2 separate regions of the Homo sapiens genome follow, and region 2 is linked to region 1. The links come from fine-mapping of genetic effects on gene expression. Tissue or cell type: blood mononuclear cells. Region 1 holds a variant in brackets; the other region holds the start of a gene. All regions are shown on one strand. Distances are from middle to middle.

What was found. PIP is the estimated chance that this variant, and not a neighbour inherited with it, causes the effect.
Region 2: RPS6KA4 starts here. The variant in region 1 is fine-mapped to the expression of RPS6KA4 in blood mononuclear cells (TOPMed, PIP 0.92).

The regions. Positions count from the first base shown.
Region 1 is chr11:64,386,113-64,396,128 of GRCh38, reverse strand. It overlaps LOC124902688 (a long non-coding RNA gene), which reads right to left and starts at 9,022. Exons shown (of 2, transcript XR_007062718.1): 1 at 8,764-9,022; 2 at 5,816-6,003. It overlaps LINC02723 (long intergenic non-protein coding RNA 2723), which reads left to right and starts at 298. Exons shown (of 2, transcript XR_007062719.1): 1 at 298-924; 2 at 1,165-1,787. The variant G/A (reference allele first, on the strand shown) is at 4,918.
Region 2 is chr11:64,355,725-64,361,756 of GRCh38, reverse strand. It overlaps RPS6KA4 (ribosomal protein S6 kinase A4), which reads right to left and starts at 2,595. Exons shown (of 17, transcript NM_003942.3): 1 at 2,467-2,595; 2 at 2,308-2,379; 3 at 1,376-1,594; 4 at 1,165-1,280; 5 at 516-623; 6 at 208-288; 7 at 12-115. The coding sequence starts at 2,521. CCDC88B (coiled-coil domain containing 88B) reads right to left here. Exons shown (of 27, transcript NM_032251.6): 27 at 4,223-4,718. The coding sequence ends at 4,663. RefSeq lists enhancers at 1,200-1,309, 2,043-2,570 and a silencer at 2,320-2,809.

The DNA.
Region 1 (10,016 bases):
GGCCTGCCGGAGGAGTGGGAAACTCATCAAAATTAAGAGCCTTTGAATAAGCAGGATGAGCACAAGGTGGGGGAGGGGCGGGGAGCCCTAGGTAAGGGCTCCAGGAATGACTTCACTGCAAATGTTAAGTGACCCAAGAAGACAACTGTCCCCCCGCTGCTCTCAGAGGAAGCTGTGAGCCTGGGTGGATACGGACGGCAGGGGACACAGTTTGCCTCTCATTGGGCAATTTCCACCAGTGGAGTTTCAATTCCTGGGTCGTGGACTCTCGTCTCCTGGTGAAGTGCAACATCATTCCTCTTGTCGCCGGTGCGTTGTGCCTGCATCTTTGCTCCAGCTAAGCCAGCTCCTCTAGGCCTCTGGCTGCCCACCGCAGTGGGCTCTGGACTGGACTCTGGACCATGCGTTGCTGGGTTTGCTGCTGTGATGATGGAGGTGCTGCTTTTGTCTGTCTGATGTTTATACTTTGTGGGTGTGGAGTGTGCTAGGAACATCTCATATGTGCCAGGAACTGGCTCTTTGGAAAAGTCAGTCCAGGTTAGAAACATAGACTGTGGCCGGGCATAGTGGCTCACGCCTATAATCCCAGCACTTTGGGAAGCCAAGGTGGGCAGATCTCTTGACTTGAGGTCAGGAGTTCGAGACCGGCCTGGCCAACATTGTGAAACCCCATCTCTACTAAAAATACAAAAATTAGCCAGGCATGGTGGTGCATGCCTGTAGTTCCAGCTATCCGGGAGGCTGAGGCACGGGAATTGCTTGAACCCTGGAGACAGAGGTTGCAGTGAGCCAAGATCACGCCACTGCACTCCAGGACTGTATCAAGTTCACTCCAAAAGTGGAGAAGAGCCATCTGGACTGCAACTGCCACCAAGGGAAGCCACACTTCAGCCAAGTGGGGCCCTCCACCTAAGGCCGAGCATGGTAAGACACTGCAGAGGAAGGGGTCTTGACTTGAATTCATCTGGGCTTTGCCTTAGAGGGAGAAAGGTATTGCATTTTTGGACTTCAATCATGGGGGCTCCTGTTTACCTTGCAGCTGTCTTATGTTGCAGGTTTTGATGTGGTTCTCAATGTTCAAACCCCACTGGGAGTTATATTACACAGTGTCGTTTGACCTAATTTAAGATAGGAAATGGAATAAGAAATGAATTTTCTTCCTAGGTGTCACACAGCTGTAGCCGTTAGGAATGTCTCTGGATGCAATGAATAGAAAATCTACATATCAGAGGCTGAAGCAATAAGAGGCAGCAGCGTGGGTATGGGCTATTCTGGGTTTGGGGAAATAGTTCAGAGATGTTATCCGGGAGCCAAGTCCACTTTTATTGGCCTTTTATTGGGAAGAAAGGAGTGTTCCTCTCATCAAGAAGTAAAGTGTTTCCCAGAAGCACCCCCTCCTCCTCACATTTCTTCACATCTCTTTGGCTAGAACCGCATCACACGGCCACCCCCAGTTGCAACAGAGACTGGGAAGGTGGAGTATCAGATGGAAATCCTATTGTCAGGACCCAGGCTGAGCATGCTGCCTCCCCACACGAAACCAGACTTCTGTTAGCAAGAAAGATACAAGATCGCCGGCCACTATGGTTATTGACATGTTGTGCTGTCATCTTCCAAAAACTGACGAGGGCCAGGTGCGGTGGCACACACCTGTAATCCCAACATCCTGGAGGCTGAGGCAAGAGGATCACTTGAGGCCAGGACTTTGAGACTAGCTTGGGCAACATAGCGAGACCCCCATCTCTACAAAAAATAAAAATAAAAATTTTAATAAAAAAAATAGCCGAGCATAGTGTCATGCACCTGTAGTCCTAGCTACTTAGGCGGCTGAGGCTGAGGAACTCCTGAGCCTGGAGTTCAAGGCTGCAGTGAGCTGATTGCTTCACAGCACTCCCTCCTAGGTGACACAGCGAGACCTAGTCTCTTTAAAAAACAACAACAAAAAATTACAAAGAATTCAACAATTTAAAAGTACAGCCCAAGGCAACCTACAGAATTGGAAGAAATATTTGCAAATCATGTATCTTATAAGAGATTAATATCCAGAATATAGAAATAACTCCTGCAACTCAACGACAACACAAAAATCCAGTTAGAAAGTGTGCAAAGGGAGCTAGGCGTGGTAGCTCACACCTGTAATCCTAGCACTTTGGGAGGCTGAAGCGAGAGGATCACCTGAGGTCAGCAGTTTGAGACAAGCCTGGCCAACATGACAAAACCCTGTCTCTACTAAAAATACAAAAAAATTAGCTGTGTGTGGTGGCAGGCGCCTGTAATCCCAATTACTTGGGAGGCTGAGGCAGGAGAATCTCCTGAACCCAGTGGGGGGAGGTTGCCATGAGCCGAGATCATGCCACTTCACTCCAGCCTGGGCTAAAGAGCGAAGCTCCATAAAAAAAAAAAAAAAAAGAAAGAAAGTGTGCAAAGGACTTAAATAAAAATTTATCCTGGCTGGGCACAGCCAGGCACAACTACTCAGAAGGCCGAAGCAAAAGAATCACTTGAACCCTGGAGGCAGAGGTTGCAGTGAGCCAAGACTGTGTCACTGCACTCCAGCCTGGGCAACAGAGCAAGACCCTGTCTCTAAAAAAAAGAGAGAGGCCAGACGCGGTGGCTCATGCCTGTAATCCCAGCACTTTGGGAGGCCAAGGCAGGTGGATCACCTGAGGTCAGGAGTTCGAGAACAGCCTGACCAACACGGTGAAACCCCATCTCTACTAAAAATATAAAAATTAGCCAGGCGTGATGGCGCATGCCTGTAATCCCAACTACTGGGGAGGCTGAGGCAGGAGAATGACTTGAACCCAGGAGGTGGAGGTTGCAGTGAGCCGAGATCAGGCCACTGCGCTCCAGCCTGGGCGGCAGAGAGAGACTCTGTCTCAAAAAAAAAAAAAAAAAAAAGAATTAGGGACAGTGTCAAGTCCGTCCATTCTGGCCACAGTGTCCAACTTCAGGGACAGTAGGTGGCTTTTGGGGCACAGAGCCAGAGGCTGCAGTGGGGCCAGGCGTGGCACCCAGTGTTCAATGGTGGCAGCGGCCGATCGCTCCCGTGGCCTGACTTTGCCTCGGGTTCTGGGAGCTGCACCCTGTTTCTGTGGTTCTCCAGCCTTCCTGGTACCTCCTGAATCCCTTCCAGCCCCCATGGATAAAGTTAAGTGCCTCCCTCTCATGTGCTCCCTGGAACCACCTCCCTCGCGGCCTCATCAGCTAAGGTCTTTGTCCCCACACCACATGAGCACCCACTGAGGGCAGGGACAAAGCTTCATCTTGTCCACTTCTCTATCCCTGGGCCCAGCTCCAGCCTTACATGTAGAGAAAGTTCTCGTTGTGAGTGAATGCATGGCTCTTTGGAAACAGAAACAGAACCAGGAAAGGATTGACCCAAAGTCCGCTGCAGAGATTGAGCTCCCCCAGCCCCAACAGGGCCCCCCGCTACAGAGGCCTGGGGAACAACCCCAGAAGGGAAATCAGGAACCAGCCCGGGAATGGAATGTCCTAGATCTACCTGAGATCAGGACCCTCCTCCCCTTCCCAGCATGCAGTGACCTGCAAGAGTCACACAGGAGGGAGTCCTGGGACCATTCTCCCTCCTAGAAAAAAACCCTAAAAGACAAAGCTGTAGCAACTGCCTTAGAAGGACAGGCTGAGTGGCCGGGCGCGGTGGCTCATGCCTGTAATCCCAGCACTTTGGGAGGCCGAGGCAGGCAGATCACCTGAGGTCGGGAGTTCAAGACCAGCCTGACCAACATGGAGAAACCCCGTCTCTACTAAAAATACAAAAATTAGCTGGGCGTGGTAGCAGGTGCCTGTAATCCCAGCTATTTGGGAGGCTGAGGCAGGAGAATCGCTTGAACCTGGGAGGCGGAGGTTGCAGTGAGGGGAGATCACAGCACTGCACTCTCCAGAGCCTGGGCAATAGAACGAGACTCCGTCTCAAGGAAAAAAAAAAAAAAAACAGGCTGAGCTCCCTGGCTTGTGGGGAGAGAGCAAGGGGCCTGCCCAGAGCTGAGTGATCTGGGATGATGGGTGCAAGGGAAGATGACCTCCCTGCAAATTAATGAGGCAGCTTTCTGTTCATAAACCACCTGCCATGACAAGCCTGGCCTGTTCCCAAGACAATGTCCAGGCTCAGAGCAAGCCAGATCCAGAACAGTTTCCAAACTACATTCCAGGGAACCCCAGTGCTCCACAGGCATTGCTGGGTGTGCCATGGGGAGCCTTGAATTAAACACATATAACAATGCAGGACTCCTCAGAGCATTTAATGCGCTGAGGCCCTTGATGACTTTCCAAGAGGCAGCACAGTACACGGCTGATGACAACATTTTTGCTGAGCATCTATCATAAACTTCCAACCTCCTTGAGCTCCAAGGAACATAGCTTGCAAATGCTGCTGTGGGCAGCACCCCACTACCTGCCACTGAGAAACTGAGGTCCCATCTCTTAAGTCTCACTCCCACCCTCTGCTGGGGGCAGTGGGGAGCCAACCTGTCCTCCCCTTGCGGGGCTCTGCACACATTGCACACGTCTCCCTCTGGGGAAAGGGGTGCCAAGGAACTTCTGGGCCAGCTGAGCCAAAATACAGACTTGGAGTGTGAACTGGCCAAGTCACTGCCTCCTCCCTGAGGGTCCCTCCCTTTGGCACCCGCCACCTTATCTCCAGAGAGGCCACCGTGGCACAGAGCCCCAGGCTCCACAGGTGGCTACTGACCGTCACCCACCTCTGGGCCAAGTCCACTCTCTTTTTGTTTTCTTTTCTTTTCTTTTTTTTTTTTTTTTTTTTTTTTTTTGAGACAGAGTCTTGCTCTGCCCCCCAGGCTGGAGTGCAGTGGTGCAATCGCAGCTCACCGCAACCTCCACCCACTGGGCTCATGTGGTTTTCCTGCCTCAGCCTCCCAAGTAGCTGGGACTACAGGC[G/A]CGGGCCACCACTAAATCTTTGTATTTTTTTAGTAGAGATGGGGTTTCACCATGTTGGCCAGGCTGCTCTCGAACTCCTGACCTCAATTCATCCACCTGCCTCGGCCTCCCTAAATGTTGGGATTACAGGTGTGAGCCACCACACCCGGCCCCAAGTCCACTCTCATTCTTGCCCTGCCCCCTGTGGGCCACAGGACAGCCCTCTGTAGTAACCACTGAAGTCTGGTAAATGAACAACCTCAGCCCCTTGGAAGTCCCAAGAGATCCCAGCAGCTTCCCCTGCCTTGTCACCGCACCTGAAGAATGGTGGTGTGTGGTGGAAGGAGTACAGCCCTGCTCTGGGCCATCGGCTACCTGCATGTCCCCTCTGCTGGAGCCACAGGCCCCTCTGTTGGGCCAGTGTCCACATCCCACACCACAGCCAGGCCAGGCTTCTTTAGAAGCTCCCCATCACTGAGCCAACTTCCTCTGCCAGTTACACATATCACCCAGATGGGGTGATTTCTTACTGCAGAACACTTTGTTAATTGACACACCATTGAACTGAGCTGATGACTCCCGTGACTTGGTATCCTTAGTCCCTGATATGTTTTGGCTGTGTCCCCACCCAAATCTCATCTTGAATTGTAGTTTCCATAATCCCCACATGTAGTGGGAGGGACCTGGTGGGAGGTAATTGAATCATGGTGGTGGTTACCCCCATGCTATTCTCATAATAGTGAGTGAGTTCTCATGAGATTTGATGGTTCTATAAGGGGCTTTCCATCTTTGCTCATTCTTCTCTCTCCTGCTGCCCTGTGAAGAAGGACGTGTTTGCTTTCCCTTCTCTCATTATTGTAAGTTTCCTGAGGCCTCCCCAGCTCTGGGAACTGTGAGTCAATTAAACCTTTTTCCTTTGTAAATTACAGAGTCTCAGGTATGTCTTTATTAACAGTATGAGAACAGACTAATACAGTACCAATATCTTTTCCTGATTCACTCATGGCACCTGAAGATGGGAAGAAGTAGCACAGACACAGCTGTGATTTCCGGCCCCTCTATGAGCTGCATGCTGACCCTTGGACATGAAGATTCTCTCTCTTGGCTCTGGAAGGTGCCAAGAAATAAAATGATAAATGGAGATGCAGCCTGGCTAAAGGACAGTTCAGCAGTAGGGTGGACTTCAGGGTTGGTTCGATCCAGCAGCTCAGCTGTGTCCTCAGGACTTGACCTCTTCCCTCTCTCCTCTGTCATCCATAGCCTCAGCTGGACCCTGAGGTATGGTGTCCTTGGGGTGACAGGCTGGCTGCCAGCTGCCATTAGGGCTAGGTGCTTCCTCATCTGTGACCAGCAGAAATGGGTGAGCATCTATCCCAGCATCCCGTGCATTCCAGCAACTGACCTAGAGCAAGCTTGGAGGGACCAGAAAGCACAAGTGGGAGGAACAGGAGCTGGGTAAGCTACACACACTACACAAAATCACAGATCAAAGCCACTTGGTCCTGGGCCAGGCTCAGAGTCCATGCTCAAATATCAGCTACCACTTTTATTCTATGTAAGTCAATATTTGGGCTAATAATGAGCCCATCTTCCCTTGAAGCTAACAGTCTAAGGGATGGTGAGATGACATAAAAAGACACCTGGAGTCTCCACCAATGACTGGCCTCATCATCACATGCAAGACCTCCCCGTACCTTCTCCATCTGCAAAATGAGGGTTAAAATATCTCCTCACCAAACTCACAGGAGAAATCATGCTTTATAAATGCAGAGATGTTGGCCATGAGGCTTCTGATCCTTGCTACAGGCTTTCAGATCTTTATTCTGAGCATTGGCAACAACACGTTTCTGAGAACATCTCCTTTGGCAAATGGTAGGTCAGGCAGAGCTGCTTCAACAGAAGATGTTTTTGCTTTCAAAAAAAAAAAATTGTGTATGCCTTTTAATCCAAATGGCTGAATTGCTGATTCAATCAGCAAACATGGAACAGACTGAGAAAGTGCAGCGTGAGCTCCGAGACAGCAAAGAGGGCCATGAACTTCAAGGATGTTTATGGAGCGATTGCTGAAACCAGCTTTCTGAAGAGGTAAGTCTCCACCAGGCAACAGGGAGGCACGATGCGGGAGTGCCGTGGGATTTACGATGTTCATTAAGTCCATCAGCTTCCAACTCCCTCTGCAACCTGCATGTCCAGCTCGGCTACCCGGGGCACAAACAAGCTCTCCAGCTAAATTACCAAGATTCTTAGTGCCCGGCTGCACACCCACAGAGCACAGCCCACCTCAGCACCTGCCACCCCTGGGGATTCCAGGGCATGTTGAGTGTCTCCCACATGCTCAGGTCCAAGCCCACACCTGGCTTCCACCTGGCCCCATCCTCTCTGCATCCCCTGCTTCTGCTGGCCTCCAGTGTTCCCAGGCTGCCAGTCCTAGAGAGTCAAGGTTAGGCTAGGGTTGGGGCAGAAACACACGACTTTGTGCTGTCCCATAGCTGCACTGTTCTTTGTCACCCAGGCCAGAAGGGACACTGCCTGAGCCCAGAAGTTTGCTACCACTCCCAGAAACAGATCCCCAGGCCCCAGCCCAGCCGTCACTTCGCAGCATCCACCTCCACCATTCTTGCTGCCCCTTCCCCTCCCAGGGCACCTCTGCACCAAACGACTTCATTCTCCTCCTCCAGTTCTGAGAGATAAAACCAGCGGGCATGCCCGTTCCTGCAAACAGGACCAAGCCAACACAAGGCCCCCAGGCCCACAAAAAGCAGGCTCTGTTCCCAGTACAGATGCCTCAGGGACACCCTGCTATATCCATGTCAAACTTCCCTTTATTCATGAATAGAGATGGGAAGTGAGGCATCAGGTGTGCTCAAAAGCTTTGCTATCGGTTAAGAATTGCACCTGGCTACAAGCTACAGAGAATCAAAATAACAGTGGCTATAATAAGGGAGAGGTTAAATTTTGCTCTCATGTGAAAAGAAGTCTAGAGTTAGCCAGCCCAGGGTTGATACAGCAGGTCCACAGCCATCAGTGACCCAGGCTCATTCTATCTTGCTCTCTGCCATCATTAACATGAGGCTCCCATCCTTGGGGCTACCTCATGATCCCAAAATGGCTACTGCAGCTCCAGACATCACATCCACATTTCAGGCAGCAGAGAGTAGGAAGGGGCAAGGCAAAAGGACATGCCTCTCAGCTTAGCCTCCTTTGGAGAGCTTTCCCAGAAACCATACTCAATAACCTTTGCTTACATCTTATAGGCCTATTTCTGAAAGGCTAGGAAATGTGATATTATAAAAAGCCCATTGACACCCAACACTATAGCTTTTGTGTTGCTAAGGAAGCTAAGGAAGACAGGAGTATAGAAAATACCAGCCTTGGCCATACTTTTTTTTTTTTTTTTTTTTTTTTTGAGACAGAGTCTCGCTCTTCCGCCCAGGCTGGAGTGCAGTGGCACGATCTCGGCTCATTGCAACCTCCACCTCCCAAGTTCAAGTGATTCTCCTGCCTCAGCCTCCAGAGTAGCTGGGATTACAGGCATGCACCACTATGCCTGGCTAATTTTTGTATTTTTGGTAGAGACAGGATTACACATGTTAACCAGGCTGGTATGGAACACCTGGCCTCAAGCGATCCGCCCACCTTGGCCTCCCAAAATGCCAGGATTACAGGCATAAGCCACTGCACCTGGCCAGCCATACTTTCTACAGAGCTAATAAAACTAAGAGGATAGGGGCCCAAACTAATCTCCCTCCTGGATGCTTGTGGAGAATAATACAACAGTGATTATGACATCAAAAAAGAGGAGGCAAAGTGTCAGATGTTCTCAGCCCATTCTACACCTGGGATGCAGCACTGTTTTGTGGTGCTTACCTTAACAAATCTGCTATCATATTCCGCTGCTGACAGCCGGTGGTCTACTGGGACCTCAGCGTCTTCATCTCTTGAGTGTTCACACAATTGATTCCTCCTCACCCATCTTTCATTTGTGTTCTTTGCTTTTCTCCTTGAAACAGTTTAATTTCATGGGCTGCATGATGATGTTTTGGACAGTGTGGGACCATATATTCCATGGTGGTCCTATAGGATTATAATGGAGGCTGGGTGTGGTGGCTCACACCTATAGTCCTGGCACTTTGGGAAGCTGAGGTGGCCAGATCACTTCAGGCCAGGAGTTCGATACCAGCCTGGCTAACATGGTTGGGACTTGGGAGGCCAAAGCAGGAGGATTGCTTGAAGCGAGGAGTTTGACTACAGCCTGGGCAACATAGCAAGAGGTTGTCTGTATGCTTTTATTTTTTGAAAGAAAGGAAGGAAGGAAGGAAGGAAGGAAGGAAGGGAGGGAGGGAGGGAGGGAGGGAGGGAGGGAGGGAGGGAGGGAAAGAAAGAAAGAAAGAAAGAAAAGAAAAATAACAAAAATAAAAGATTATAAGGGAGCTGAAAAATTTTTCTCATCTAGTGATGTCATTCATAGCCATCATATCATCATAGTGCAATGTGCCACCTTTTCTATGATTAGATACATTTAGATACGCAAATACCATTCTATTCCAATTGCCTCTGCTACTCAGCACTTCCTGCCATACAGGCTTGTGGTGTGGGAGCAATCAGCTGTACCATCTAGCCTAGCTGTGTTGCGGGCTACCCATCCAGGTTTGTGTAAGTGCACTCTGATGTTCACACAGTGATGAAATCACCTAACAATGCATTTCTCAGAACGTGTCCCCATGGCTAAGTGACTCATGGCTGTATTCTGGAATCTTGTCATTCCAGACCACAGTCTTCACATTGAGGTACCAAGTTGTGGATCAGAATGGAAAGCTAGGCTATGATGAGGGACAGTGCGCTGTCACATGACTGACATGATTTATTTCACAAAGACAGCAAATGGAGCTGCCATGCCACCTCCAGCAAAGAGAGCCCGGGGCTGGCGTCTATGGAGCTCTAGGCTCTGCAGAGTCGGAGCGAGAACCAGATCCTTGGGGCAAAGAGAGCTAAAACGGATTGCAGAGGAAAGCGAACCACCACACATCTGCTAGAAAGAAATATCTCTTAGGCAGGAGATAACCTTGAGAGGCAGCATAACCGCTCAACCACTGTGGTTAAGGGCTTAGTTCTCAAGTAGG
Region 2 (6,032 bases), 32 kb after region 1:
GCCCTACTCACCGAGACACCTCAGCCTGCGTGTTCCTCTCGCCCTCCAGGGTGAAGGGCGAGGCCCCCGTCAGCAGCTCGAAGAGCAAGATGCCCAGGCTCCACCAGTCCACAGCCTGCCGGGTGGAGCCGGGGTGAGGGCCTGCATCTCCCCTGCCTCACACCCCACCTTTCCACCTCCCCCAGCCCCACTTCCCTGCCAACCTACCTTGCCATGCCCCGTCTTGCTACGGATGATTTCGGGGGCCATGTACTCGATGGTGCCACAGAAGGAGAAGGTCCGCTCTTTCTGGGAGGGCAAGAGGTCCTGCTTAGATGTCGAAACCTCTCCTGTGCCCCAGTGCCCCACAAGGCCCAGAGTAAGACTCGCTCAACTTGTGAGGTTGGAGAGCTGAGCTGTGGAAACTTCTTGGAGCTATTCACTTCTGCAGCCCCAGAATGCAGGCCCAGAGCAGGAAGAGGCAGGAAGGAGAAGGATTGAATGGGGCACTGCAGGCAGAGGTGGCCTCCACTCACCTCCTCCGTCAGGAACTCCTTGCTCAGCCCGAAGTCCGTGAGGACAATGTGGCCCTCGGAGTCCAGCAGCACATTCTCCAGTTTCAGGTCTCGGTAAATGATGCCGAGCTGGTAGGAGCAAGAGGGGTGCTGAGGCTTCCTCCCCGAAACCCTCCCCAGCTCCTCCAGCTCCTGGCCCTGCTCAGGATAAGGAGACCCCCCAGAGAAAGTCATCTGCCTGTAGAGGGGGTCTCCAGGGCAGAGCCACTGAATAAGAAAGGCCATTTAAGATATAAAACAAAGAAGGAGGGCCCCGTGGATCAGGCCCCAAGGTCCCAGAGAGAGGAAAGTCTGTGTGAAGAGCTCCATTTCAAGGAGGCCTTAGGAGCCAGGCCGTGAGGTTTCCATTTGAGGAAGTTCTGTGAACGCAGCCCCGAGTTCCCTGAAAGAGGAAAGCCCCTTCGAGGAGGTGCCAGGGGAGGGGACCCCACCAGGCAACGTTGAGGCTTCCTGCAAGGGGTCCAGGGGAAGCAGCTCCAATTCCCACCCAGCTCACCACTGGCCCCCCAGGAAGCCCAGGGGGAAGCCTGAGGCTGCCCTGCGTGCAGATTCCTTCCAAGGCACAGACCCAGTTTCCATAGCAACAGCCTGCGGCCAGGTCTTCACCCACCTTGTGCAGGTGTTCCAGGGCCAGCACGATCTCACCCCCATACACGCGCACCTCAGCCTCCTTGAAGTACTGGCGCTGGTAGAGGTGGGTGAACATCTCCCCGCCGCTCACATAGTCTGGGAGGTGCAGTGGAAGTCAGGAAGCAGCCCCGTCAGGTGGCCTCGCCTGCCCCCAGCCACCCCAACCCCGTTGGGATGTGGTGTGCGCTCACCCAGGATGAGGTGCAGCTTGGCATCCGTCTGGAAAGCGTAGTGCAGCGTGACCAGGAAGGGCGCCTGGCGCACCAGCTCCAGCACCGAGCGCTCGGTGCGCGTGTGCTCTTGCGTCTTGGCGCGCTGCACCAGCGCCGCCTTGCGCAGCACCTTCATGGCGTACAGCTTCCCCGCGTCGTGCCCGCCCGCCTTCCGCACCAGGAACACCTTGCCGTAGGCTGTGGGAGCAGCGAGTGGGTGGAGGGTGGGCTGTGAGCGGGAGATTGGTGCAGGCTTGGGGGGTGGGGGCGATGCCAACCCAGGAGGGTGTGCAAATGAGGCGAAGGAGCTGGGGCAACAGGCAGGTGTGCAAAAAGCTGGCAGAGCCTTCTAAGGAAAGGGTGTGCACACCCCGGGAGGGTGCCCAGCAAAACCAGGGAAAGGATGTGCAAACCAGGCTGGGGAGCATGCATCTCCAGGGGGCCTGCTGCGAGGCATGGGGGCGGGGCATATGCAAACCTGCGAGAGATCAGATGGATGTGAAAAGATGCCAGTGCAAGGAAGGGAGGCAGAGGTGTGCACCTGGCTGGGGAAGGGATGCGCAAACCAGCGCTGGGGCATTTGCAAAATGTGGGAGGGGGATCCCATATTGGAAGAAAGGGAGGAGCTATGCAAATCACTTGAGAGGGGCGCCAGTCCCCCTCCCCAGGGTGTTGGCAAATCCAGGGGGGTATGCACGCACAGGACCGTGGAGGGAGGAGTGATGTCAATGTGGAGTGCCCTGGAAGTGGGCATGCAAACTCTGGCGAGGCAGGGCGGGGCAGGCAAGGCAGGCTGTGCCGGGAAAGGGTGGGGGGCCTGCTCAGTGGCCTGGCCCAGGCCCAAGAGTGAGCAGGCAGGAGGTCAGGGGCACCGCGCCTGGGACGCCTGCCCGGTGGATGGGGGTCCTCACCTCCCGTGCCCAGCACCTTGAGCAGCTCGAAGTTCTCCACGCTCACCTTCTCCTCGTGCCCGGTCAGGTTGGCTGTGGGCACAGGGGGCGAATGAGCCCAGCCGGTCCATGACCCGTCCCGGCCTGCCCCGGGCAGCCGCAGTCAGGCCCCACACCCACCTTCTGTGATCCGCAGCTCCACGGCGCAGCTCTCATCGTCGTCCTCGTCCCCCATGGCGGGCGGGTCGCTGGGGCCCGCGCGGCTCGGGCTCCGGGCGGCGCCGGTTACATGGCGGCTCCGGCCGGGGCGGGCGCTTCCTGGTGCCGCCTCCGGGGCCGAGGCGGGCGCCGGCACCGCCTCCCGGCTCCCCGCCCTGCGCGGCCTGAGTCAGGCGGCTGGAACGTGACAGCGCCGGGCTGCCGGTGGGCGGCCGGCTGGGGCCGCCCTGTCTCCCGAGCCCCCAGGCCAGGCCTCAGGGCCGTGCGCTCCGGGACCTTACTCGACTCTCCCGGGAACTGGAAACACCCCGTGGGAGCCATCCCTGAGCCCGTGGGTAACCTGGAGCCTCTGGGGCATTAGTCCCCAAGCCAGGAATCTGCCCGGGAATGCCGGCTGCAGCCAGTGGCTGGAGGACATTAGGAGTCTGTGCCCCAAGGTGGGGGACGAGGTGCCTGGTGCTGGGCAGGCTGAGAGGGGGTCTGGATCCTGGAAGTCACCCAACTCTCAGGCAGTGGAGCCCACCCCACTCCATCGTCCTGGGGGTGGCCAGCAGGGCCCCTCTCCCCAGAGGACTGGCCTTTGCAAGGAGGAGCCTCATCACCAAGAGGGGGCTGGAGCCCGGCCTGGGACCCCATGGCAAGGAGAGGAGTGGCCAGTTTTCTGACCAGCTTTCTGTCGGGGGTGCCTGCAGAAGCACTTCAGCCCCCAGTCACCGTGCAGAGCCCACCAGGTGCCATGCGCACCTCACGTGTTCTGCTCCTGTTGTCTCCTAGCCTGGTGCAGTACCCAGCTTAGAGCCCTGAGCAGGCCTCAAGAAGAGATGTCAGTGCCACACGGGGCTGCCCCCTCTCCCCATGAGGCCCAGGGCCCCTGCTGACTGGTCCTCCTGAGCCCCTGCTCCGTCTTCTTCCTGCCTTTCCCTTCCTGACCACCAATGGGGCCACCTAGCAGAGTGGGACAGCCATGAGGCCCCACACCCTGAGGCCGGTGGGAGGGGCTCTCAGCTCCTCTGCCAGCTGGAGAGGCCAGGGTGTCCACCCCACGCCCCTGTCCTGTGAAGCCCTGGCTGAGAGGAGGAGGAACTCAAGCTGCTGCAGGTCACACCTGGGAGGCCGGACGGACCGTCCCTCCCAGCTCTGCACCCCCCAAGTTCAGGCTGCCTTATCTCAGCCCTGGGCAGCTCCACCCTCCCCTGGGTGGCCCCAGGTACCCTGACTCACATCCTGCACCCCAGCCGAATTGCCCCGCCTCTCAGGCATCAGGCTAGAGGCCCTGGTCAGAGAGCCAGCGTCCCTCCCACCTCTCCTGGCAACCCCTGGCATTAAGTGATGCCCCGCCAGGCTGAGAACTCCCTGGGGAGGGGGCTCAACCTCAAGGAGGGAGGGGAGATGAGTAGGAGGAGGATGTGAACAGAGAGAAGACAGTGCCCTGGGAGAGGGTGGGGGCGGGGCAACAGGGGCTTCACTGCCCCACACCCCTGAGCCCAGATCTTAGACCCCAATCCCTGCTGGCTACCCAGGATGTCATCCCCTCTCCACCTCACCAGGACATCCGGGCTTTGGCCGGCCGGACTGGCCAAGACCCTGGAGAAAGGCCTGTGCTGCCCTGTCCAGGCAGGGGCCCTCTGCCCACAGACCCCCACCAACCAGCAGGACTGGGGCGGCATGTGTCCTGGTGCCCTGAGGTACCCAGTGCGGCCAACAGACAGAGCAAGACTCAGGAGGCTGCAGTTCAGCTTTATTCTCATGCCCCTCATGTCCAGTTAAGGCTCAAGATCAGCCCAGGCCACAGTCCCCCAGCACTGGGACTCAGCTTCCCACCTGGACAGGGCAGGGGGTTCTCTTGCCAACTCCTGCCAGCCTCCTTCAGCTGGGGGATCCCCCAGAGACCGCTGCCTCAGCGGGAGCCACCTGGAAGAACCAGAACTCCAGCCTGGAGCTGCTCGTGGGGGCCAGCCATCCCCCCTGTCCACACACTCGTCCCAGCTCCATCTCCGGGCCCCGGCGCTGACCGTGGAGGATCTCAGGGCCCAGGCCTCCTTGTCCAAGGACTCCCCTTGGGGTCCCTGGCTCCCTGAGCTCTTGGGCTGCCTGGGGCCTCCGCTGACACTCCAGTGCCGAGAAGGCTGCACTCCCAAGCCTGCTGTTCCCACGGTGTCACTGGCTGAGGGATGGGGTGAGGGGACGTTTCTCCGGTTCCTGTACCTCAGGGCCTAGAGGGAAAGGCTCAGCTGAGATCTGCTTCCCTCAGGAGGACTCCCAGAGTCCCAGGAGGCCCACAGGCTCGAGCACCTTCTGCCCACCCCCGACCTGCCAATACCCCCCGCTTCCAGCTGCACCACGCCTGCTGTTCCCTCAGCGGTTCCCTCTGCCCAGAATGCTGTTCTCAGGTATGTCCACACGACAAACTCTCCCCTCCAAGTCTTTGCTCCAATTTCACATCCTCTCTGAGGCCCACCCCAGCACCCCAGTTACTAAAACTCCAACCAGCCTGCCCAGAGCTCCTGAGCTCCTGACCCCTCCCCTGCTCTCCTTTCTTCCCAGAGCATTAGCGCCTCCTGATGGTCCAGCCGGGTCTAGGGCTGAGCTGCCCAGGGCGGAGCTAAGTAGGTGAGATGGGGTTGGCCTGTGACGTGCTTCAAAGACCTACTATGTTTTTTTGTTTTTTGTTTTTTGTTTTTGAGACAGTCTCACTCTGTCACCAACGCTGGAGTGCAATGGCGTGATCTTGGCTCACTGCACCCTCTGCCTCCCAGGTTCAAGCGATTCTCCTGCCTCAGCCCCCTGAGTAGGTGGGATTACAGGCATGGGACACCATGCCTGGCTAATTTTTGTAGTTTTAGTAGAGACGGGATTTCACCATTTTGGCTAGGCTGGTCTCTAACTTCTGGCCTCAAGTGATCTGCCTGCCTTGGCCTCCGAAACTGCCAAAGACTTACTATGAAAAAAATCACGTCTGGCTGGGTGGCTCACACCTATAATCCCAGCACTTTGGGAGGCTGAAGCGGGCGGATCACCTGAGGTCAGGAGTTCGAGACCAGCCTGACCAACATGGTGAAACCCCGTCTCTACTAAAAAAAATAATAATAATTATACAAAATTAGCCTGGCGTGGTGGCCCATGCCTGTAATCCCAGCTACTTGGGAGGCTGAGCCAGGAGAATCGTTTGAACCTGGGAGGAGGAGGTTGCAGTGAGCCAAAGAGTGAAATTCCATCTCAAAAAAAAAAAAAAAACATCACGTCTAATAGCTCATTCATGATTTTTACACTGGCTACATGCTGAAATGGTAATAGCGTAGGCATATTGAGTTAAATGTTATTAAAATCCATTGTACCTGTCTCTTTTCACTTTTTCTGGTAAGCCTACTGGAAAAGTTAAAATTATCATGTGGTTCACACCATATTTCTAGTGGACAGGGCTGTTGTAGATAATAATTATTTTTAGGCAAATTGTTTACTATCTGCCTCCTCACACCAGAACGTTCCCTGCTGTGTCCCCTGCCAGCACGTCACCTGGCACTTGGTAA